6 linked regions of the Homo sapiens genome follow. The protein of the gene in region 1 purifies or fractionates together with the protein of each later gene. This does not show direct contact. Each region holds a gene or a part of one and is shown in the gene's direction. Other genes may lie near its edges.

Region 1 (3,802 bases):
TGTTTTATGGCTGTAAGAGACCATACAGTTCATTCCACAACATGTGAGTGGCAGCTTTAAATGCCTGGCACAGTGAATGCAAACTTGGATTCAATTCTTGTTCCTTACCTAATAAATGAACTTTCACTTTGAGGAAGTGCAGAAGAACATAGGGAGGTGGAGGTGAGTAACTTGCTGCAGGTTACATGGCAAGTCTCCGCATATGCCTGGCTAGCTCCTCCACAAATGCGTGTGGAGGAGCTAGCCAGGCATATGCAGAGCGTCACTTACAGCCGAACACAGCACTACTGCTTGCATGTTTAATGAGAATTGAGCAGTCTGGAAAACAAGTCACAAACTTGAGCTCTTGTTTGTTCATTTGTCTTGGTGCTGCTCCTTGTTCTTTGGAATAAATGCTTGTCACTTAGGAAGACTCAAGGTGGCCTATCGGTGAGTCCATGTTACTGGGGATGGTTGGCCCCTTCTTGAAGGCAGGGACAAAGAGCACAAGTTTGGCCACATGTAGTTCATTGCGTAAATAGTGATTTATTATTTCTCCACACTTGGGCCCTGGAGCCTCTGTGGCCCTGGCTCACGTACTGTTAGTCTAGAATGTATTCTTCATTTGCGCCGTGGTATGAGTTGCCTTCGTGCTTATTCTGACAGCTGTGGCTGATGACCTTGTGAAACACAGTGGCTGCCTTTGCCACACTGCACCCGTGCTTGTTAGTGGTTCTATGAGAACTGATCTTTAAGACCCCCCATTGCCAGTATTAGGCTGTGGTAAGTTTTTGGTGACTTCTTTTCTTAAATATTCTGTCAAAGTAACAATGTCTGCCGACAGCTCAGGTAGATGAAGGCATAGCTCATGTTTCATGCTTGGTTTGTATGTCTGCAGCTTTGCCAAATGCTTGAGATCTGATGAATTTTGAGACACGGGAAAGAATATAAATGAGAGGATTATGTAGTGGGGATTTACGTCATTTTTATGACTTAAAAGTTTTAATTTTTCAAAAGGTATTTTGTAAGTTTTAGGTAAAGGAAACATTTAACTATGGAAATTTACATAAATGTTGTATCATGCTACCACCAGTGCATTTTCCAGCCTGTGGCCAGGAAAGACAGAGCCTGCAGAGAAGAGAGGAGGAAATGGACAGTGTAAGAAGGATGCCAGTGAGGGGATTTTACTTCTGTACATAGCAGGGAAGGCTTTGGCAGCTTTCTGTGGCCAGAAGATAAGGGCGTTCCAGGGAAGGTTATTTTGACCTTTTCCCAAGATGGTTAACTGGCAGGGCATTTTGCTCCAGCTTTCATTTTCTTGGAAGTTTATTACTATTATTATTATTTTAAACAGGGGCATGAACATTTTATAGCTAGAAGAGACTGACAGGTTCATGGTGGGAAGGGAGGGAAGGCAGGAGGAAAGGAACCTTGTTCGCCTTTGGCTTGATAGTTTGAAGGTAGTGGTTTTTGATTACAAAACCTTTGCCTCAGGAGCGTGGCAGGAAGAGGGGGTAGATGAGCTAATGCTCAGAGAGGAGACAGCTGGATCCTGAGGTGGTTGTATTGTCTCTACCCCATTGGTTTGATGTGTGTCACTTAAAAAAAAATTAACATTCCAGAATAATACCTAAAGCATTGTATCCTTTTTTGCTCCTTCTGAATACATTAGAGCTACCTATAAATAAACTGTGTTTGAGAGTAGGAGCTATGATCTGAATTTTGAATTTTTTTTCTTGCATTTAGCTAACCAAGGGAATCCCAATGTAGATTCAAATGTCATTGTGGTCCTGGGCTTGTCTAGCTTCACCTTCACCCCAGTCTGAGGCACAGTCTTAAGAAATCCTTCAGTCCTCACCCCTGGGGTGGGTGGAGACAGCTGGCGTCCCTTGGGGATTTAGAAAACTCATACCTTAACTGATAAGCTAGGGTTGTAACCTTATGCCAGTGACATCAATGTTCACAATAGGTGAATATGTTGTAAAAATAAGAGCCAATAAGTATTATTTCACAGCCTAAATTAAAAAGTCCCTGATCTGTTTTTCCAGGAACAATCTTGTCTTAGTGATTTGGTAAGGTCTTGGTAACATCTGGAAATCTACTTTATAAATCACTTTATGATTCACTTTCCTTATTCTGCATATTATGTTAACATAACAAGTTATGCAATGTTAGCATTCCTATAAATATATTTATAGGTTTCTAAAGGGATCTTAATTGTAAATATTTATCCTCATTAGAGGGTAAGTTTTTTAACATATGCTAAGTTTTAGAGTGTAGTGTTTAATATATGAGGGACATCAGAATAGCCTAATACATTTATTGATTGATTATATGAAGCCCATTTAATCCTTGAAATACCCCTATGATGTAGATACTATTTTTCTTGCTGTGTTACAGATAAGGAAATTGCATATGGAGATATTTACCTAAGTTCATGTAATCGAAATTAGTGAAATTGAGATTTGCACTCAGATTCTAATGCCTACTGAGGCTTGTGCTATAAAGGGGATCTTTGTAACCTGGGGGAGTCACATCACAGACCTCTGTTGTAAGTGAGTTGACATTGGAGCCAGGCCTTACTATAGCTGTGGTCATCGGATTTCCTCAGAAACACTTGGGAGTGAAATAACGATGCCCCAGGTCCCCTTCCAGACTTTCTCCCAAACAGATCATGCCTATTTTGTGACTCTAATTGACTACCAAATTTTTTAAACATCGCATTTACAGTTTCAAATTTTAATTATTCCAAATCCCTATAGTAATTTGCTATGGGCTGGGTGATGTGAAAAGTCTTTTGAGTATGAAATCTAAGGTCAAATCCCAGCTATGACAATTCTTAAGAAAGTAGACAAAATATTTATACTTGAATCTGATCTCTTAAACTCTTGCTTGAGGAAGCCATTGGCTATGATCAACTTTTTATATTTAAATATATATATATTTGTATATGTATCATGTGCAAATGTGTGTGTAGGACTATGTGTAGGCATATAGATATACGAAGGTGTGTGGATACATATATTTATATGTGATTTGTTTATATTCCTTAAATATGCATAGATCTGTAATTGCTATGCTTTTACTCCTGGTGACATTTGGTCCAGTCCACTTTTAATTTGCTGAGGCAGGACTGGCTGTCTTACAGTTGCAACATGTAAATGTTTGGCTACTGGCGATATTTTTTAATTACCTTAAAGATTTTGGTTTAAGAGAACTTCATGAGTCAAAGTAAGAAATTTCCGAAATTTAGAGAGTTGTATGATTTTAACAGCCTGTTGGAATTCATGTGGATTTGGGGTGAGGATTTGGGAGGATTGGTTGGACATGATTAAAGTTTTTCAGTATGTTTTTGGTAGCCACAAAAGTTCCTTTCTGTTTGTAAGGTATAGACGTTATTCCCCCAAATATCATAGCATAGGGAGGCCATTAAAAAAAAAAAACTAACTTTTTATTTTAGAATAGCTTTAGATTTACAATAAAGTTGTAAAGATAGTACAGAGAGTTCCTATATTCCTGTACCCAGATTCCCTATTGTTTTTGTTTGTTTGTTTGTTTGTTTGTTTGTGAGACAGGGTCTTGCTCTGTTGCCCAGGCTGGACTGTAGCCTCGACCTCCCGTTCTCAGAGGATCTTCCCACCTCAGCCTCCTGAGGAGCTGGGCCACCAAGCTCAGCTAATCAAAAAAAAAAAAAAAAAAAAAAAAAAAAAAAATATATATATATATATGGTTGGGTTGGGTGTAGTGGTTCACACCTGTAATCCCAGCACTTTGGGAGGCCAAGGCAGGCAGATCCCTTGAGCCCAGGAATTCAAGACCAGCC
Region 2 (3,802 bases), on another chromosome or scaffold:
TAAAATAAACTTTACCATTGAAAAGGAGTTGGTGATCATCTTTCTCCATTTGACGTCTCTGGCCTACCCAGTGAGTCTCTTCAGCTCCTGTTTTTACGCAGTTGCTGTACAAAAGGGGAACGAAAGTAGGGGCATGTTTTTATTTAAAGCTGGTTAGATACTTTTTCAGAGAAGTCATGTGACAGGTTTTCTGATTTTTGTATTATGTGAAACAACAATTTTTGTGTTTCTTGCAGGAGATAATCTTGGCCAACAGTACAATAGCCCACAAGAAGTTATTGGCAAACGAGGTTCCGATATCATCATTGTAGGTCGTGGCATAATCTCAGCAGCTGATCGTCTGGAAGCAGCAGAGATGTACAGAAAAGCTGCTTGGGAAGCGTATTTGAGTAGACTTGGTGTTTGAGTGCTTCAGATACATTTTTCAGATACAATGTGAAGACATTGAAGATATGTGGTCCTCCTGAAAGTCACTGGCTGGAAATAATCCAATTATTCCTGCTTGGATTCTTCCACAGGGCCTGTGTAAGAATGGGTTCTGGAGTTCTCATGGTCTTTAGGAAATATTGAGTAATTTGTAATCACCGCATTGATACTATAATAAGTTCATTCTTAAGCTTGCTTTTTTTGAGACTGGTGTTTGTTAGACAGCCACAGTCCTGTCTGGGTTAGGGTCTTCCACATTTGAGGATCCTTCCTATCTCTCCATGGGACTAGACTGCTTTGTTATTCTATTTATTTTTTAATTTTTTTCGAGACAGGATCTCACTCTGTTGCCCAGGATGGAGTGCAGTGGTGAGATCACGGCTCATTGCAGCCTCGACCTCCCAGGTGATCCTCCCACCTCAGCTTCCAGATTAGCTGGTGCTATAGGCATGCACCACCACGTCCATCTAAATTTCTTTATTATTTGTAGAGATGAGGTCTTGCCATGTTACCCAGGCTGGTCTCAACTCCTGGGCTCAAGCGATCCTCCTGCCTCAGTCTCTCAAAGTGCTGGGATTACAGGTGTGAGCCACTGTGCCCAGCCTAATTGCAGTAAGACAAAAATTCTAGGGCACCAAGAGGCTAAAGTCAGCACAGCTTTTCTTGTGTCCTGTATTCTCTGTCTAATGTGTTGCCCAAATAATACCTAATTGTTAGCCATTCCCCTCCATCTCTGGCCTAAAAGTGATAGTCCAGGTATCCACATGGGCTGGTTCCCAGAACTGCCATTGCTCACTCTCCAAAGAGGGGAAGGTGGGGAAGGGGAAGGTGACTATAGCTCAGCTCCTGAGCTAGTATCTGGCTGTTATTTCAACAACCGGAGTTGGGGTTTGGGCTCATTTTTTCCCCTAGCCAGCAATTATGGACCAGTAGTAACACAAGTGACAGCTTCCTGTGACTGACTTCACAATTAGGAGGTCTAAGATTCCATTTGGGTATTTGCTTAAGGATCCCACATAATTGTCCCAACGGTCATTAGTAGAGGGGAGGTAAGCCTTCATTAATAATAAAGAGAAAGCCCACATTCAAGGTGGTGTTTGAGCAGGGGCAGGGTGAGGGCTGTCCCGGTGCTCATTGCACCAGCACACTCACATTCCTTCTCATTTGGGGCCCACCTGCAGGAAGTGGCACAGGATCAGCCATTTCCCCACCCTTGTCAGCTGATGGCCCACTGTTCTTTAATGACTCAGAGGAATGCCTAGGATTTTTTTTTTTTTTTGAGACAGAATCTCACTGTCGCCCAGGCTGGAGTTCAGTGGCACGATCTCGGCTCACTGCAACTTCTGCCTCTCTGGTTCAAGCAGTTCTCCTGCCTCAGCCTCCCGAGTAGCTGGGACTACAAGCCTAGGATTTTTAACTCAGGTTTTTATTATATTCCCTCCTGAAGTTTTTACTTCAAGAGCTTCTGCTCTAAAGTCCAATTTGGGCTTCATGTCCCCAGTGCTGCATCTCCAGGGAAATGCTGTCTGTGGGAGAGACCAACTCTCAAGGAAGAAGTGGCCACAGAAGGAGCAGGAAGGGAGTTGGCCCTCAGGGCTACTCTGGGGAAGCCAAAAGTCATGAAGGGGAGAAGAATTTTCTGACAAAAACTTGCAGGAATCTCTTAGGTGTCTTCAGTGTTGGAGTGATATGTTGAGAGGCCTTTGGAGTGATGTGCTGAGGTCTCAGGCGCCCACCTCCCTGGCTGTCACTTCCATGTGTCAGTGGTTCTCCCACTTTAGCAGGTATCAGAGTCACCTGGAGTCTTGTCAAAACAGGTACCAGCCCCACCCGCAGCGTTTCTGACTCTGGGTAGCTCTGGGATGGGGCTTGAGAATTTGCGTTTCCAAAAAGGTCCCAGGTGATGCTGCGGTTGCCTGCGCAGGGACTGGACTTTGAGAACCACTTCACTGGTTATTCACATTTCTGCCTCTGCAGTGAGACAGCCTTGAGGTCTGCCTCCTGCTAAGAGTCACATGCTCCTGTCCTTTAGAAATGTGGGCTCCTGCCATCTCCAGGACGCAGGCACTGTTCCTGTTGATGAACCCTATTTCACAGGACCCCTGCTAAGGTGATTTGAGGGGAAATGAGAGGAGGCTCAAATAATCACCCAGCCCCTGCCACTTACTGAAAGTGTAGGTCCTTGTGCCCCACACCATCAGAGTTTCTGCGTTAGCAGATTTGTGGTTTGCCCAGCAGCCTGGGCGTGTGCATTTCTAATGGGTGCCTCAAGTGATCTGTTTCTGATTTGTATTTCTATTGTGAAGAGTCAGCCCAGTACTGCAGGCCTCTTACCTAAGCAGAATCCCAGTCTGGCATCAAAGCTTTAGAGGACAAGTTGATTCAGGCAGAGAAGAACTTGGGCTATACAAGCGCTGTTCTTCAGCATTGAAGTATTTTGGAGGCATTAGATAGTTTAACCCTTTCTCAGTCAAGGAATATTTACAGAACATGATCTCTGGGCATTGTAACTCCTGGTCTTAGTGGGGAATATAGGGACCCCATGTCTCCATGGGGTGCACAGAATGTCTGTGAGACTGATGGAGTGGAGAACGCCATCCCCCAGCCTCTCCAGCTACTCGAGGCATTCTGTAGAACATAAGCCCATAGATTGTGTGTGTGTGTGTGTGTGTGTGTGTGTGTGTGTGTGTGTGCATGCGCGCGCGTGCGCACTGGAGGAACCTAAGAAACTATTTGGTGCACTTCCTCTTATTTTAGAGCTCCCAAAGTGTAGCTCCAGAATCGTAAAGGGATATGCTCAGTCTCACAGCCAGCCTGTGGATCTCAGTCCCAACACTCACCCTTGTGCTACTGAGTCAGCTCTAAGAAAATCTGCCAAAAGTAGGCCGAGGGCTGGTTTTTTGTTTTGTTTTGTTTGTTTGATACAGGGTCTTCACTCTGTTGCCCAGGCTGGAGTATATCATGGCTCACTGCAACCTTGACTTGGGCTCAAGCGATCCGCTCAAGTAGCTGGAACTACTCTCAAGTAGCTCTCAAGAGCCTCTCGAGTGGCTGGAACTACAGGCGTGCACCACCACAGCTGGTTAATTTTTAAAATTTTTTGTAGAGACGGTGGAGGAGGTTCTCACTGTGACTCAGTGTGTGCCCGACAGCAGAGCCCACACCACTCCAGTTGCAGTGGTTGCCATCTGGGTCATCAGACCTGGCTGTCAGGGGTGCAGCCACAGGAGAGCCAACAGCAGAGGGTGCTGGCCGCTGAGCTAGCTGCTAATGCTGGCCTGGGTGCAGTTCTCATCCAAAGTACCCGGTGGGTGGGAGTCACTCAGTACCAGTTCCGAGCCTGAACCCAAACTCTCGTGTTTCTGCTCACCCCTCT
Region 3 (3,802 bases), on another chromosome or scaffold:
TTCTAGGAGACTCAGCAAATATCTTAAGTCAAGCCATGGTCTGGATTCGTGGACACATGGGAAGCATAAAGGGCTGAGGAATACCTGATTTCTACCCCACACTCCCTTTGAATGCCAGAGAGCAGGGAGCATTTGCTAGAGCTGGGCTTCCATCCTCCTTGTTGTTCCTGGATGGTAGTCCTTTGAGCAGAGCACACATCTATTCTCTTGTCATCCTGGTCCTGTTTCCAGGACTTCATGTGGGGTCATTTTCCCTTGACTGTAGAGAATAGCAGGTGCAAATGGTTACTAGTTTCTATCCCTTGTGCTCCAAACTGCCCTCAGAAACCAAGTCTTCTAGATCATTGATGACTCCTCACATTTGTTAAAACACTCCCATGTGACAGGCACCAAACCAGGCTCAGGGAAAGACCAGGATCTTCACCAGAAGTAATCATAGGTGGTTTGGCTCCGCTCAGGAGCAACCTCATGAAAAATTCACATACATATAATATTGCACTGGACTGAGTATTGGTCCACTTCAGGGACCTCCAAACTTGGCTGCCCTGCTGCAACCCTGAACCTGATGGTGGGACCATTTTCCCCGGAGCTGTGTCAATGTTCTGAGAATGTGAGTTTCACCGCTGTGTGTAGTCCTAGGCCAGGTGACTGCAGGGCCCTCCAGAGGACAGTGAATGTAATGCAGCTGGGAGCTAGCACCGGAGCCTCAGCTCCTGTGCTTGTCCTGCAGTCCTCATTCAGACTTCCCAGCTTCCCTTCAGAGGGTGTGGAGAAAGCAAATTAACTTAACAATATCTTTTCCTAGGGTGGAGATGCACCTTGGGTGCAGCATTTAAGGAAGCACTCACTCTCACAGCTGTCCAAGTGCAGGATGGGGACTGAGAGTGAGCGCCTCCTTAAATCTTGTGCCCTGGGTTAGATGTCTGCTTGTCTTTTCCATTCTATTTCCTGTGTTTGGGAAGCAGCAGGTATAATAAAATGAACTTGTATTTTATTTGAATTCCAGCTCTACTGCTTACTAGCAGAATGATGCTTGGGAAGTTAGCCACTTTAAGACTTAGCTTTTGCATTTGTTAAGTGCTGATAATATAACCTCCTATATATGATGTGTGTGTGTGTGCATGTAATGTAACCTTATAGGATTATTGTTAAATATCTTTCAGTATTTACTAAGATACTATTTATGTATTACCTAATGTTTATGACCTGAAGCAGGTTTTGGCAATTACCCCTTCTGTCTGTTCATTCTTATTTCATAAGGAATGAGATAGACATGATTGAATCAGTTCACATTAAGACTTCAAGCAGATGGGGCTAGTTTCTGATCATTTGTTTTACCAGACCCTGAGTAATGAGTGGATATAATTTTTTTTTCTTTTGTCTTTAACTTTTTAGTATGGGAATTTTCAAACTTATAGAAAGGTAGAAGCATATAAGATCATGAAATCATATGTGCCCATCCCCTACCTACAGCAACGATCAGCTCAAGGCCAATTCTGTGTCATGTGTATCTTCACAGCATTCACCCAGCCCTACCCTGGATTATTTTTAGGCAAATTCCAGACATTATATTATTTCATTCATAAATATTTCAGGTAATTACTGAAGATTTTTTTAAAATATAATCACAATACCTTTTTTCTGAAATTTCAATAGTACTTCATTAATTTATAATATAAAATATTCAATGCTCAGATTTCCCCCATTACTTTTTTTTTTTTTCCAACGGAGTCTCTCTCTGTTGCCCAGGCTGGAGTGCAGTGGTGCGATCTTGGCTCACTGCAACCTCTGCTGCCTGGGTTCAAGCAATTCTCCTGCCTCAGCCTCCCAAGTAGCTGGGAGTACAGGAACCTGCCACTGTGCCTAATATTTGTAGTTTTTTAGTAGAGACAGGGTTTCACCATCTTGGCCAGGCTGGTCTTGAACTCCTGACCTTGTGATCCACCTGCCTCGGCCTCCCAAAGTGCTGGGATTACAGGCGTGAGCCACCACGCCTGGCCATCATTTGTTTTAATATTTTGTTAGAATCTGGATCCAAGTCAGATTTTGTAGTACTTTCTTTTTGTTGTTGTTGTTAAGAGACAAGGCCTTGCTCTGTTGCCCAGGCTGCAGTGCAGTGGTGTGATCATAGCTCACTGCAGCCTCAAACTCCTGGGCTCAGGTAATCCTCCCACCTCAGCCTCTCAAGTAGCTGGTACTACAGTTGCACACAACCACACCTGGCTGATGGTACATTTTTAAGCTTTTATTAATCTGTGAATTTCTTTACCAACACAACTTTACATTCTTCCTTTCCATCTGTGGATCATTTGTCTTCTTATTATCTGTACTGGATTTTGCTGATTATATTTCCGTGACATTTTACCACATCCCTCTGAGCCCCGTATTGCCTGTAAATTAGTAGTTGAAACTAAAGACTAGATCAGATTCAAGTTTTTGAAGTTTTGGTGAGAATATTTCCTACGTGGTGGTGTTTACTTCCTTCAGGGGCCCACAGTGTCTGATTGTCCCTGATTGAGTGATGTTGGTGACCATAGTTCATCATTGCCTAGATGTCTTGTTCCATTAGAGGCCATAAAACGATAATGTTCTCTGTTTCTCCTTCTTCTTTTATTACCTGCAATATTTCAGTAAAGAGAAACTTCCCCTCGTTTACTATTTGGCTTCCTTTATTTCATATAGAAAAAGCCAGATACATGCTTACTTGATACCTTCTCTTTATTTACCAGTTTTCAGAATGATAATTTCATTCTGTAACATCCTCAAGGTAAAGTGGTCTGCATCTTCGTTTTTTGAGTGTAATTATAAACATATGAATTTAAACATATTTGATACGTTTCAGTTTGTTACAGATATTATTCTTATTGATGCTCTAATTGCCCCACTGTTGGCCAGCGGGAGCCTCTTCAAGTTGGTTTGTTGGTCCTTTTGACACAGCTCCAGTAGTCGTTGATGGCTCCCTGGCTTGCTGGTATAATGAGATGTTTTGAGCACATCTTAGCATTTCTTGCCCTAGAGCTAGAATTAGCCATTTCTCTAAGGAACGCTGGTTTCTTATGGTGGGAAGGGGTATACGGGTACTATCAAAGGCAGGTCGGTGACCATTTCCTTTTAATTCTCTGAAATCTAAACAGCTGAAAGTGCCAAATGTGGTGTCTAGCCTGGCTCCATGGAATTTTTAACACGGAGTTCTCACACAGCATATGATCATTCCTCAACTCGCCACTTGATGTCACTGCATAGTCAAATGAGCATTCAAAATTACCCTGCAGTGGTTTGTGTTATTTCTGATTCTGTTGAAAGCAATGTTAATGAGATGGTAGAAGGCAAATGTACTACTTCAAATGCAAAAGTACTCTATCAAATAATGCAGTGAGTGCATTCAATGACAAAATTAATTCTAAAATGAAAGCCTGGCGTCCTTCATTCAGTCTTCCTTCTTTATGACCTTGTGAAGAGATGTTTACAAAGGGATTATACATTTATTAGCATCGTTAATTACCGGTGCTTTTAGATGAATAGAATGCTGTGAAAAAAAATAGCACTATCAGAATATGTTTAGTATTCACAAGAGGCAATAGAATTATCCTCACACTTAGACCAGCAGCAACATTCCAGACTACTGTCCTTTCTCTATGCACTTAAGTTAGAGTTTGGCCTTTTCAGCTCATTTCAGCACCAGGTTCTCAATAGGGACCAACAGCAGGAGAAGTTTGATGGTCTTAATGAAACTTTCACGGTTTAAATGAAATGTCTAGATATAAAGGAAAAAGTTGGAAACCAGGAGTTTATTTTCAGGGTA
Region 4 (3,802 bases), on another chromosome or scaffold:
CAGGAAGTAGATGTGGGAGAATCGCTTGTGCCCAGGAGGTCAAGGCTGCAATGAGCTGAGATCGCAACACTGCACTCCAGCCTGGGTGACAGAGCAAGACCCTGTCTCAAAAAAAAAAGAATTGGATCTTGAGGAACATGTCACCCCCATGTCTTTAGTTCAGCAAAACTTCACAGAGAAAGGCCACCTCATAAAATCGTGAGGAAGGGCAAACAAAATATAAGGAAGATTCAGAACCACAAGCAAAAAATACAGCTAATGGGGTTGTCTAAGTAAAGAAAGAAAATAGCTCAGATGTTTTTCCCATGCTTCACTAAAGCCTTCATTTTCATGTGTCAGGGTGCTAATATAAAACTTCAGTGATAAGTTGTATATCTAGTGCCAAAGACTAGTTTCTTTAGGGGTGCCATTGAATCAAAATCTTTCATATCTATAAAACTTTTGAAATATACTGAGATATGAGATCTCAAAGGCAGATAGATAAAAGCACATATTCTGGCATCAGAATACCTGGGTTTGAAAGCTGTTTCTGCCATTTATCTGTAGAGTAACCTGGGCAAGTTACTTCTAAATATAATGATAAAATATCTACTTTAAACAGTTGTTACGAGGAATGTAATTGGTAAAATATGTAAAGTCCTTGGAATGGTGCCATGTTTATTTTAATTGCTATGTAAATGTTCAAGATGACTGCTATTATTCCTTGTTCAGACTTATATTTAGCTCTAATTTTTCTCAGAAAACTTTCTTAGGGTGAGATTACTGTAGTTAAGCTGAAGTGATGTAGCTGGTTTTTGTGCATGTTAAAAGTAAAATAATTTTTGCAGTTTCTTTAATGTAAATTATCTGTGTGCAAAATAATGCTAATGTCAACGCAGTGTTCCAATTGTGTGATTATCTTCCATTTAATTTTCAGGAGAATCCTCATTGACACTGGAGAACCAGCAATTCCAGAATACATCAGCTGTTTAAAGCAGGCTCTAACTGAATTTAACACAGCAATCCAGGAAATTGTAGTGACTCACTGGCACCGAGATCATTCTGGAGGCATAGGAGATATTTGTAAAAGCATCAATAATGGTAAACAGAAAACATTCATTAAGCTCATTGAGGAAAGCCGTGTTTGGAGAATAATTTATTTCAGTTACAGAGCTAAGTAGTCTATAAACCATTTACTAAATACCTCAGTTTTAAATGGTACTTTTAGAAATTGATTAGACTGTTGAATACTGTGCCTAGTTTTAACAAAGGAGGAACGGAAATCCTGATTTCTGTTTCAAATCCTCAATTTTACTTTAGTGTGTGAGTTACTATTCAGACTTAATCATAACTAACAACTGTTGAGCATTTACTCTGTGCCAGGCACTGCACTAAACAATTTATGTGGATACTGTGAGGTAGGTGCTCTTATTGTTCACATTCTAACAGATTATCTCAGTCCTTCTGTAACTTTAAGGCAGTTACTAAGATATGCTGAAATTCAGGCAATATATCATTGTATTGATAATTCATTGTCCCTGAAACCTATACAGTACTGACATTTTCTATCTCTTTATTTCCTCATCCCACCATCATATACCTAGATTCATTCATTCATTCATTAAATATTCCAGTTACTGTTATATGTCAGACAGTGTTCTTGGCACAAGGGGTATAGCAGTGAACAAAACAGACTCTGTTCTCATGGAGCTTTCATTCCAGTAGGGAAGGTACTGGTAAATAAATAATAGATCAGGCTGGGTGCAGTGGCTCATGCCTGTAATCCCAGCACTTTGGGAGGTCAAGGTGTGTGGATTGCTTGAGCTCAGGAGTTCAAGACCAGCTTGGGCAACATAGCAAGACCCTGTCTCTACAAAAAAAGTACAAAAATTTCCCGGGTATGGTGGCGTGCACCTGCAGTCCCAGCTACTCGGGAGGCTAAGGTGGGCAGATGGCTTGAGCCAGGGAAGCTGAGGCTGCAGTAAGCCAATATTGTGCCACTGCACTCCAGCCTGGGCACCAGAATGAAAAAAAAAGGGAAAAAAATAGATCAGATAATCATGGGTGCTATGCAGGAAAATAAAGGTACAAGAAGAGAAAGGGAAGAGAGCGTAAAGTGGAGAAGGGCAAGGGCTGTTATATCCAGAGTGGACAGAGAGAAGGAGCAAGCTCCTGGCAGGAAGGCCTGCAGGCAAACAGCATTGCAGGAGCAAAGATGGTGGAATGAGAGTGTGGTTGGCACATTCAGGGCACAGTAAGGAGGTCAAGAACATTCATGCTTATTTACATTGAGCTAGTATTTTTAAACATTTGTAAAGATCTGCTTTTTTAGGCCTTGTGACTACAATTGGGACATCTCAGCTACCACACCCAATATCACCAGGCTGCCAGTTATAAAAAACTGGCAACCAAGCTTCCTTACCCTCTTAGCTCCTTTCTTCCAATCTAAGGGGACTGTGTACCATAGGAACTTATAATCTGTCAGTCTGACTTTTCCTTCTCTTGTCTTACCTCTTTTAATTTTGTCTTACCTCTTCTTTTAATCTACCTATTAAATCTTGTGAATTAAAAAACTATTTTATGCCAGGGACGGTGGTGTGTGCTTATAATCCCATCCACTCAGGAGACTGAGGCAGGACGATAGTTTGAGCCCAGCAGTTCAAGACCAGCCTGAGCTACAAAGTGAAACCCTGTTTGCGGGAAAAAAAAAGAAAAAAAAAAAGAAACTACTCTGTGATTTCTTAATTAGCTTTGTCACCTCAGCCAACTCTTCAGATTTTTCAGTTTGAAAAATTAAAATGTTTATGGCCCACTTTTTTCCTTCATAAATCAATTTTATTGAGCTTTAATTTACATACATAAAATGTGCCCATTTTAAGTGAACAGTTTAGTGAGTTTTAACAAACATCAATACCTATGTGACCATTCCAGTCAAGATATGGAACACTTCCTCCATTCCAAAAAGAGGTCCCCTCATGCTGCTTTGCAGTGATTTCCCCCATCCCCAGCCTCCAACAACCACTCAAATAGGATATGTGTTTTCATTTATATTTGCACATAATTTTGAAGACAGATACAAAGTTATAGTATGACATTTATTTTGTAATTTTGATATAATTGTGATTTTTTAATTGTCTACTAAAGGTCTCATAAGCAGAAATGTAATGCCTCCATTTCTTTACTGAAAGATAAAATTATACAGCTTATAAACAAAACAAACAAAAAAACCTCAATATCTCAATCTTGTTATATAATGTCAATTCCCAGAAAAGCATATCATTGTTTTCCTTCGGCCTCTTAGATACAAAATAATAGAGTTTGGGGTTGGAAGGGGAGGTGGTATTTGTTGTTGTTTCTTTTTATTTCAGTGTTTCTGTCTCCTTTATCCTCAAACTAGCAAATTTCTGTGCCTTGTCCATTTTTCTTTGAAATATCTCTTTCTCCCTTCATATTTCCAGTGCTACCGTCTTAACCCTACTATTCATTACCTTCTAGCTGGGAAATTGTAGTCATTCCCCTCCTGGGCTCTCTGATCTCCTTTTGGTCTCCCTACCCACAGCCGCCATATTGATCATCAGTTAACACTATTTCATTATCTTACTAAAGAGTGTGCAGTGATTACACGTGGTAAAGTTTAAATTCTCCTATTTTGTAAAAGGCAATTTGAGACCCTTTCTGATCTGAGCTTATCTTACCTATCCAACTTTATCTCCACTCTTCCTAGCCAGTATTTTGCAGTAGAAAGTTGGTAGCATTATGTTGTCACACATATGTCATGCTCATTCTCATTTTAATGCTTTATTTTTTTGAGACAGAGTCTCGC
Region 5 (3,802 bases), on another chromosome or scaffold:
TGGTCTTGAACTCCTTAGCTCAAGTGATCCCTCTGCCTCAGCCTCCCAAAGTGCTAGGATTATAGGCATGAGCCACTGTGCCTGGCCAATGTTAAATTCTTAGCAAGATTTTAGCAGTTGGAATCCAGCAGTGTATAAAAAGGGTAATACATCATGACCAAGTGGATTTCGTTGGTTTAAGTTTGAAAATCGATGGATGTTATTTACTGTATTAACACAATAGAAAGGATGAGCCATGGGTTTGTCTCAATACATGGAGAAAAGGCATTTGACGGAACCCAGTATCCATTGCTGATAGAAGTGTTCAGCAAACTTGGAATAGAAGAGAATGCCCTTTAGCCTCATAAAGGACATCTTTTAAAAACCTACCATTGGCATTAAACTTAAGGGTAAAAAGAATGACAGTTTTTCCTCTTAGATCAGGAAAAATAAAATTTCTCTTCATCCACTTTTATTCAACAATGTACTGAAGGGTCTAGCTAATGTAGTAAGGCAAAAAAAAATTTTTTTTAAGAAAACGAATAAAAGGAATCCAGATTGGAAAGAAGTAAACTTGATTTTATTCACCGACAACATGATTGAATTTTTGTAGCAAAATTGTATATTTACAAAAATACTAGTGGAAGTAAGTGTAATAAGGTTTCAGGATATAAGATTAGTATTCAAGAAACAACTGTGTTTCTTTATGGCTGCAATGAATGATTAAAAAGGGAATTTTAAAACTGCCATTTGCAATAGTATCAAAACCAGGAAATACCGAGGCAGAAATCTGATGAAACAGTGTGCGCTCTGCACTGATAACTACTGCTCTGTTTCTAAGTGTCCCCCAGAGTTCATGTGTTAGAAACTGAAGCCCCAGTAAGAGAGTGTTGAGACATGGGACCTTCAAGAGGCGACGCGAGTGCTCACGGATGGACTCATGTCTTTATTGTGGATGCGAGTTGCTTATAAAAGCCAGTTTGGCCCTCTCCTGCTCTCTTTCTTGCAATGTGATGCCTTCGGCTACGTTATGACACAACAAGAAGGACCCTCACCAGGTGTGGCTTCTTGGTCCTTGACCTGGAGGACTTTCCAGCCTCCAGGAGAACTGTGAGCCAAATGAACTTTTATTTTTTTGAGGCAGTCTCACGCTGTGACTCAGGCTGGGGAGTGCAGTGACACAATCTCGGCTCACTGCAGCCTCCACCTCCTGGGTTCAAGCAATTCTTGTGCCGCTATACTCGGCTGAAGTTTGCATTTTAGATACAGTGTTTTGCCATGTTGGCCAGATGGGTCTTGAACTCCTGGCCTTATGTGATCTGCCCACCTCAGTCTCCCAAAGTGCCAGGATTACAGGCATGAGCTACTGCTCGCAGCCAGCTTCTAATGTTTATATTAATCAATTGCATAGGCAGTGGTATTCTGATAAAGCGTACCGAACGGATGAAGACAACTGCAAACACTGCTGAGAGAAATTTTTAAAGACCTAAATAAATGAAAAGATTTGCTGTTTTCATGGATCAGAAAACTCGGTGTTGTTAAGAAATCAAGAAATAAATTCTCAGCCAGGTGCAGTGGCTCATGTCTGTAATCCCAGCACTTTGGCAAGCCAAAGCAGATGGATCGCTTGAGGCCAGGAGTTTGAGACCAGCCTGGCCAACATGGTGAAACCCCATCTCTACCAGAAATTATAAAAATCAGCCTGGTATGATGGTGCATGCCTGTAATCCCAGCTCCTCAGGAGGCTGAGGTAGGAGAATTGCTTGAACCCGGGAGGCAGAGGTTGCAGTGAGCTGAGATCACGCCACTGCACTCCAGCCTGGGCGACAGAATGAGACTCCCTGTTAAAAAAGAAAAAGAAAGAAAGAAAGAAATTCTCCTTAAAATTCATCTGTATGTACATTCATTCCAATTCTAGTCAGAATTCCAACAGGCTTTCTGTAGAAATTAATAAGCTTATTCTAAAATTAATAGGGAAATGCAGAGGACCTCGATTACCCAAACAGCTTTGACAAAAGAAAAAGAAGACTTATGTGACATAGTTTCAATGCGTATTACAAAATGGCAATAAAATAATCAAGGCAGTCTGATAGTGGCATAAAGGCAGACAAACAGATAATTGCAACAGAGCAGAGCCTTCAGAGATAGACTCACACGTGTACAGACAATTGACTTTCAACAGTGGCTCCAAACAGGAACCAAAATGGCGCTGGCCTTCTAAATGGCAACACTGGAAATGCTGAGGGTTCCAACTTATATATATATAAAATTAGTGAAGAACTATCACTAAAGGGATAAATCAAGAGGAAAACGTAAGATCCAGAAAATAGATTCCAGCACATACAGGGCAGGAGTGAAGGGATGTCATGGACGGTAACTGCAGGAAGCGTAGGCATGAGCTACTGCAGATTAGAGCAGGAGGAGCTGAGAGGGAGGGGGTAGGGGGAAGGAACTGATGTGTTGGAGTTCACAGAGAACATTATTGATAGGTGTGTGGCAGAAATGTTGCAGAAATAATTTACAATCGGACCATAGAAAAACTGCATAGTTTTAAAATGTGGCAATTAGTAACTCCACTAAAAAAGGATTATGCTTGCACAAAAAAGGAGAGGTGGTTTTGTCAACTACTTGTCTTGACAGTGTGTATTATCTGCGGAGTCACAGTAATGCAAATCTGACTTCCTGATGAATGTAGCTGAGTGGAAATGGGGTTTGCTGTGTTTGCTGTCCACATTGCTCAGCATCTGAGATGTAGCCCTTTGTGAGAGAGCTGGTGCCCGAAGGGGGTGTCTCTTCTGCCTGTGCTCTGTTACTCAGGCCTGCCGTTGGTCACTCCATGTGCCTCCTCAGTGTTTGGTTGTGTCCAGCCCTACTCTATGGCAGGACAGTCTGCTTTACTTCATTTACTAGTTTCCTATCAGCCAGTTTTTAGGGGAAATCTTTTCTAGAATAACTTTGATTCTAGTGTGTTTTCTAGAATAACTTTGATCCTAATATGTTTTAGGAAAAATATAAACATAATATGCCGGGCATGCGGTGGCTCACATCTGTAATCTCAGCACTTTGGGAGGCCAAGGCAGGTGGATCAGGAGTTTGAGACCAGCCTGATCAACATGATGAAACCCTGTCTCTACTAAAAATACAAAAATTAGCCGGGCATGGTGGTGGGCACCTGTAATCCCAGCTACTTGGGAGACTGAGGCAGGAGGATGGCTTGAACCCGGGAAGCAGAGGTTGCAGTCAGCTGAGATTGCACCACTGCACTCCAGCCTGGGCAACAAGAGCGAAACTCCATTTAAAAAAACAAAAGACAAAAAATAAAATTATAAGTGCCTTTACTAGTCTTGTTTAAATAGGCTGATTCTTTCTCTTTTTTTCTAATGCCCCCTAGGAAGTAAAAAGAAAGAAAAGGAACGGCCAGAAATTTCTCCTCCATCTGATTTTGAGCACACCATCCATGTTGGCTTTGATGCTGTTACTGGAGAATTCACTGTAAGTTAACCTAGTTCGGGCCCATTTATAACGTTTAAAATAGCACTCAAACATTTTCCTTCATTATTAAATTTGAAATTAACATTTCAGGCCAGGTGCGGTGGCACACGCCTGTAATCCCAGCACTTTGGGAGGCCAAGGCTGGCAGATCATTTGAGGTCAGGAGTTCGAGACCAGTGTGGCCAACATGGTGAAACCCCATCCCTACTAAAAATACAAGAAAATTAGCCAAGCGTGGGGGTGTATGCCTGTAATTCCAACTACTCAGGAGGCTGAGGCAGGGGAATCATTTGAACCTCGGAGATGGAGGTTGCAGTGAACAGAGACTGTG
Region 6 (3,802 bases), on another chromosome or scaffold:
GAGCCAGCCTGCATTTGTATCTGTATCTTGGAAGCAAACTTAGAATGCAGAGACAGATGTGGCATGGACGCTGTCAGCTCTAGCCAACCACTAAATCCTAAGGTGGGAGAGATGCAGGCTTTGGCTAGGTGCTAAGCTGCTGTAGCCGGTTGAATGTAGAGGTCACTATCTTTTCCGAATACCTGTAAGTAAATTAAATCATTCTCTACTCCCATGTGCCTGCCAACCTAATGGGAAATCGCTATAGAAAAGATGGTTTAAATTTTAGTCTTTGAAGTGGTTTATGCACGTTTCCGGAATCAAGATTTAATGCAGAGTTGGATTGGATATTGAATATTTTTGATTTGTCTGCTTTTCTCTCCATAGAAAGCTTATAGCTTCATTGCACCATGTGTGGCATTTGGGCGCTGTTTGGCAGTGATGATTGCCTTTCTGTTCAGTGTCTGAGTGCTATGAAGATTGCACACAGAGGTCCAGATGCATTCCGTTTTGAGAATGTCAATGGATACACCAACTGCTGCTTTGGATTTCACCGGTTGGCGGTAGTTGACCCGCTGTTTGGAATGCAGCCAATTCGAGTGAAGAAATATCCGTATTTGTGGCTCTGTTACAATGGTGAAATCTACAACCATAAGAAGGTGAGGAGAAAGAAACCAGATGTCTGGATGCGATTAAACTTCAGAGTTTGTTGGTTACGATGATGTTACATATTCTGTATCATGCTTTTTCCTTTGCAAAGCACTCTATGTTCGTTATCTCATTTGCTCTAAGTATGTAAATAGGGAACTGATGAATAAAAAGGTGAGTGAAATGACTTGGTCACAAAAAAAGTGATAAAAATGGGGATTACAGTTCAGTTTCATTGACTCTTAGAATTTTTTCTCCTTCTCCCCAGCTTTTCATTTTGAAAAAATTCCTAACATACAGTAAAGAACAGAACAACAAGCACCTAGATTAAATAGTCATTAATGTTTTGCCATAGTTGCTTGATTTTTCTTTCTACACACACACACACACACACACACATGTTTTTGCTGAATCATTTGAGAGTACAGTGCAGATATTATGACACTCCTAAATATATAAGCATTTATCTCCTAAGAATAAGGACATTCTTCTACATAACATCAATGCCATTATTAAACCTAAGAGTCCATAATACCACCTAATATCCAGTTAATACTTAAATGAAATTTCCCTAAGTGTCCCAAGAATATTTTTATTTATTTATTTATTTTGAGACAGAGTCTCATTCTGTCACCCAGGCTGGAGTGCAGTGGTGCGATCTCGGCTTACTGCAACCTCTGCCTCCCAGGTTCAAGCAATTCTCCTGCCTCAGCCTCCCAAGTAGCTGGGACTACAGGCACCTGCCACCATGCCCAGCTAATTTTTTGTATTTTAGTAAAGACAGGGTTTCACCATGTTGCCCAGGGTGGTCTGGAACTCCTGAGCTCAGGTAATCTGCCCACCTTGACCTCTCAAAGTGCTACCAAGAATATCTTTATAGCTGGTTCTTGTTTGTTTTGAGCCAGATTTCATTCAAGGTTCATGCATTTGGTTGGTATGTTTCTTGGTATTTTTTGAGACTTCTTGATAGATACCTGTCAGGCATTGATAGAGATTTACATCCTAATCACATTTTGGACATTTTTATCTGTGAACAATAGCTTTTGTCATTGTTTGTTGCCTGCTCATAGGAAGACTCTTAATAATAGTCTTCTCATTTAAAAAGTTTTAAAATAGTTATTCAGGAAATTCCTTTTACACATTTCTTTATTCCTTTATTAAGGGTCTACTATGCACCAGACATCATTTTTCTAGGTGATTGGAGATGAAATGGTGAAAAGGAAAGGCAAGAATGGAATTTCCTGCTAGTGGGAGGTAGAAGAAGAGAGTATTAAAAATTTTTTCTAAGTCAAATAATGTCATATACATGAGAACGCTAGGTGGTATTATGGCATTATCAGCTTGGCTTTCCCCTTAAATGAAATAGGAAGTGCCCTGTTTCACTTGAACAGTGTTATTTCTTTTATTAAAAAGTTACAAGAAGTTAAATATTTTGAAAATAATTAATTTCTATTCTAAATTAGCCAAATGTTATATTTGTAAAAGTAGAGAAGTTTGTTCCATTGCTTCTACCAAGCATCTAAGTTTATGTAGTTGGGGCAGCTAGCAGTCTGTCTAATGAGCAGAATGTATACTTTAGGCTTATATAAAGTATTCAGAAATCCCCCCCACACCTCCTTTTTGGTAAAAATAAAGTTTACCACTACAATAAAATACAGCCAGAGGTGTACTGGGAGTAGAAGGAGACTGAATGAAAGAAAGGAGGAATGGGGTAAAGGCTGGGGCAAAGAGCAGGCCCTCTCCCTGCAGGGGAGTATCAGGGCCTGCAGCCAAGTCAAATGACAGCATGACGTCAGGAGGCAAGATTTGAGGGCTTTTATTTAAGGTGCAGCATTGGAGTTTGGTTTTAGGAGAGTAGGAAGTAATACATCCGTTACCCAAAGGACCCTTCTCCTTTTTAAATAAGTTACCTGCAAAGTTTAGGCCAAAGAGGTGGGTAAGGTAGATTTGGGAAGCTGTTGCTTACTAATATCACCGAATGCTTTATGGTCACTAACCCTTCAGGCAGTTCAGCCCAGAAGAGTCAGCAGAAGACTGTTTACAGGCCCCCACCTGCTAGTTACAGATCATCCCTGATAGAGCAGAGAGGGGTGACCAGGTAGTGACTTTGTAGTCACTGGAGGCAAAGCCCATTTTTGGACAGTTCAGTGAGGACTTATAGACAAAAGATTCACAAATTATGGAGTGAGTTGGATGGAGTGTGAAGCATATTTATGGGTCATGCACATACATAATAGGTTTACTTTTTGAAATTTGAAAGCATGTTTTAAGCTTATCTAGGATTTCCACCTGATTTAAACCTCTTCTTTCTCTAATGTCAGCCAAAAACCCGAGTACAAAGAAGAAAGAGGAATACATCAAGGACTTTTCATCCTCATAGTTTGCCATTAATGGCTCATAGTTTGCCGTTGATGGTGGAGAGTGTCAGAATTGGGGAGTAGCCTAATCAAACCTTCTTACTCTGCATGCAGTGGCAGACAGTCCCTTTGCTGTTCTTTTGGGGAATGCAGACTAATAAAGCGCCACCGTCATTTTATCTATCAGTAAGGAGTAGCTTTAATGCTGCTGCAGTGGTGGAAGCACTGGGCATTGTCATCCACCCCTGGGGACCAGCAGCTTTGTTTTGGATCATGTATCTGTTATTGTGATGGAGCCATTTATTTTTCAGGGAATGATGCCAAATGATGTTTGTCCCTTTGCTTTACATTTTTATAGCTAGGACTTTGAAGCTGAACTGGAGGAACTTCTTAGCCAATACTATCTTCTCAAATCAAAAGTTTATAGTTGCAAAAGACACGTTTTTTAGTGTCATGGCAACCAGGCAACCTATTATCTTAACTTAAATTTAGAGGTTGAGCATCCCTAATCTGAAAATCTGAAATTTGAAATGCTCCAAAATCTGAAACTTTTTGAGCACTGACATGACATTACATGTGCATTTTGATGTCACAGTCAAAATGCAGGTGTAAAACACGCAGTTTATTTGGCGTTCCCTAGGGAAAAAAGACCCTCTCAGCCCGCTTCAGCTGCAGTATAACTTTTCTACACATGCCCGGATTTCCCCATGCAAGCACGCCCACAAAGGGTAATAGAATGGCACATGTTCAAGCTGGATACGCCATTGGCAGGATCCCCACAGATGGGACTTATGTGCATTATCCATTGTGTATTTTTG

The links.
Region 2: the proteins of ISOC1 (region 1) and UMPS fractionate together in Homo sapiens (co-fractionation; one large-scale study listed by BioGRID). This does not show direct contact.
Region 3: the proteins of ISOC1 (region 1) and HEBP1 fractionate together in Homo sapiens (co-fractionation; one large-scale study listed by BioGRID). This does not show direct contact.
Region 4: the proteins of ISOC1 (region 1) and LACTB2 fractionate together in Homo sapiens (co-fractionation; one large-scale study listed by BioGRID). This does not show direct contact.
Region 5: the proteins of ISOC1 (region 1) and PAK2 fractionate together in Homo sapiens (co-fractionation; one large-scale study listed by BioGRID). This does not show direct contact.
Region 6: the proteins of ISOC1 (region 1) and ASNS fractionate together in Homo sapiens (co-fractionation; one large-scale study listed by BioGRID). This does not show direct contact.

What each region holds. Positions count from the first base shown.
Region 1 is NC_000005.10:129,097,502-129,101,303, forward strand, and holds part of ISOC1 (isochorismatase domain-containing protein 1), read left to right. Parts: intron 1-186; exon of another isoform or gene 187-265; intron 266-3,802.
Region 2 is NC_000003.12:124,743,679-124,747,480, forward strand, and holds part of UMPS (uridine 5'-monophosphate synthase), read left to right. Parts: intron 1-236; coding exon 237-406; 3' UTR 407-3,802. UniProt on the Homo sapiens protein: Bifunctional enzyme catalyzing the last two steps of de novo pyrimidine biosynthesis, orotate phosphoribosyltransferase (OPRT), which converts orotate to orotidine-5'-monophosphate (OMP), and orotidine-5'-monophosphate decarboxylase (ODC), the terminal enzymatic reaction that decarboxylates OMP to uridine monophosphate (UMP).
Region 3 is NC_000012.12:12,983,068-12,986,869, reverse strand, and holds part of HEBP1 (heme-binding protein 1), read left to right. Parts: intron 1-2,227; exon of another isoform or gene 2,228-3,526; intron 3,527-3,802.
Region 4 is NC_000008.11:70,659,012-70,662,813, reverse strand, and holds part of LACTB2 (endoribonuclease LACTB2), read left to right. Parts: exon of another isoform or gene 1-916; coding exon 917-1,080; exon of another isoform or gene 1,081-2,669; intron 2,670-3,802.
Region 5 is NC_000003.12:196,798,557-196,802,358, forward strand, and holds part of PAK2 (serine/threonine-protein kinase PAK 2), read left to right. Parts: intron 1-3,370; coding exon 3,371-3,471; intron 3,472-3,802. UniProt on the Homo sapiens protein: Serine/threonine protein kinase that plays a role in a variety of different signaling pathways including cytoskeleton regulation, cell motility, cell cycle progression, apoptosis or proliferation.
Region 6 is NC_000007.14:97,865,744-97,869,545, reverse strand, and holds part of ASNS (asparagine synthetase [glutamine-hydrolyzing]), read left to right. Parts: intron 1-366; 5' UTR 367-389; coding exon 390-638; intron 639-3,802.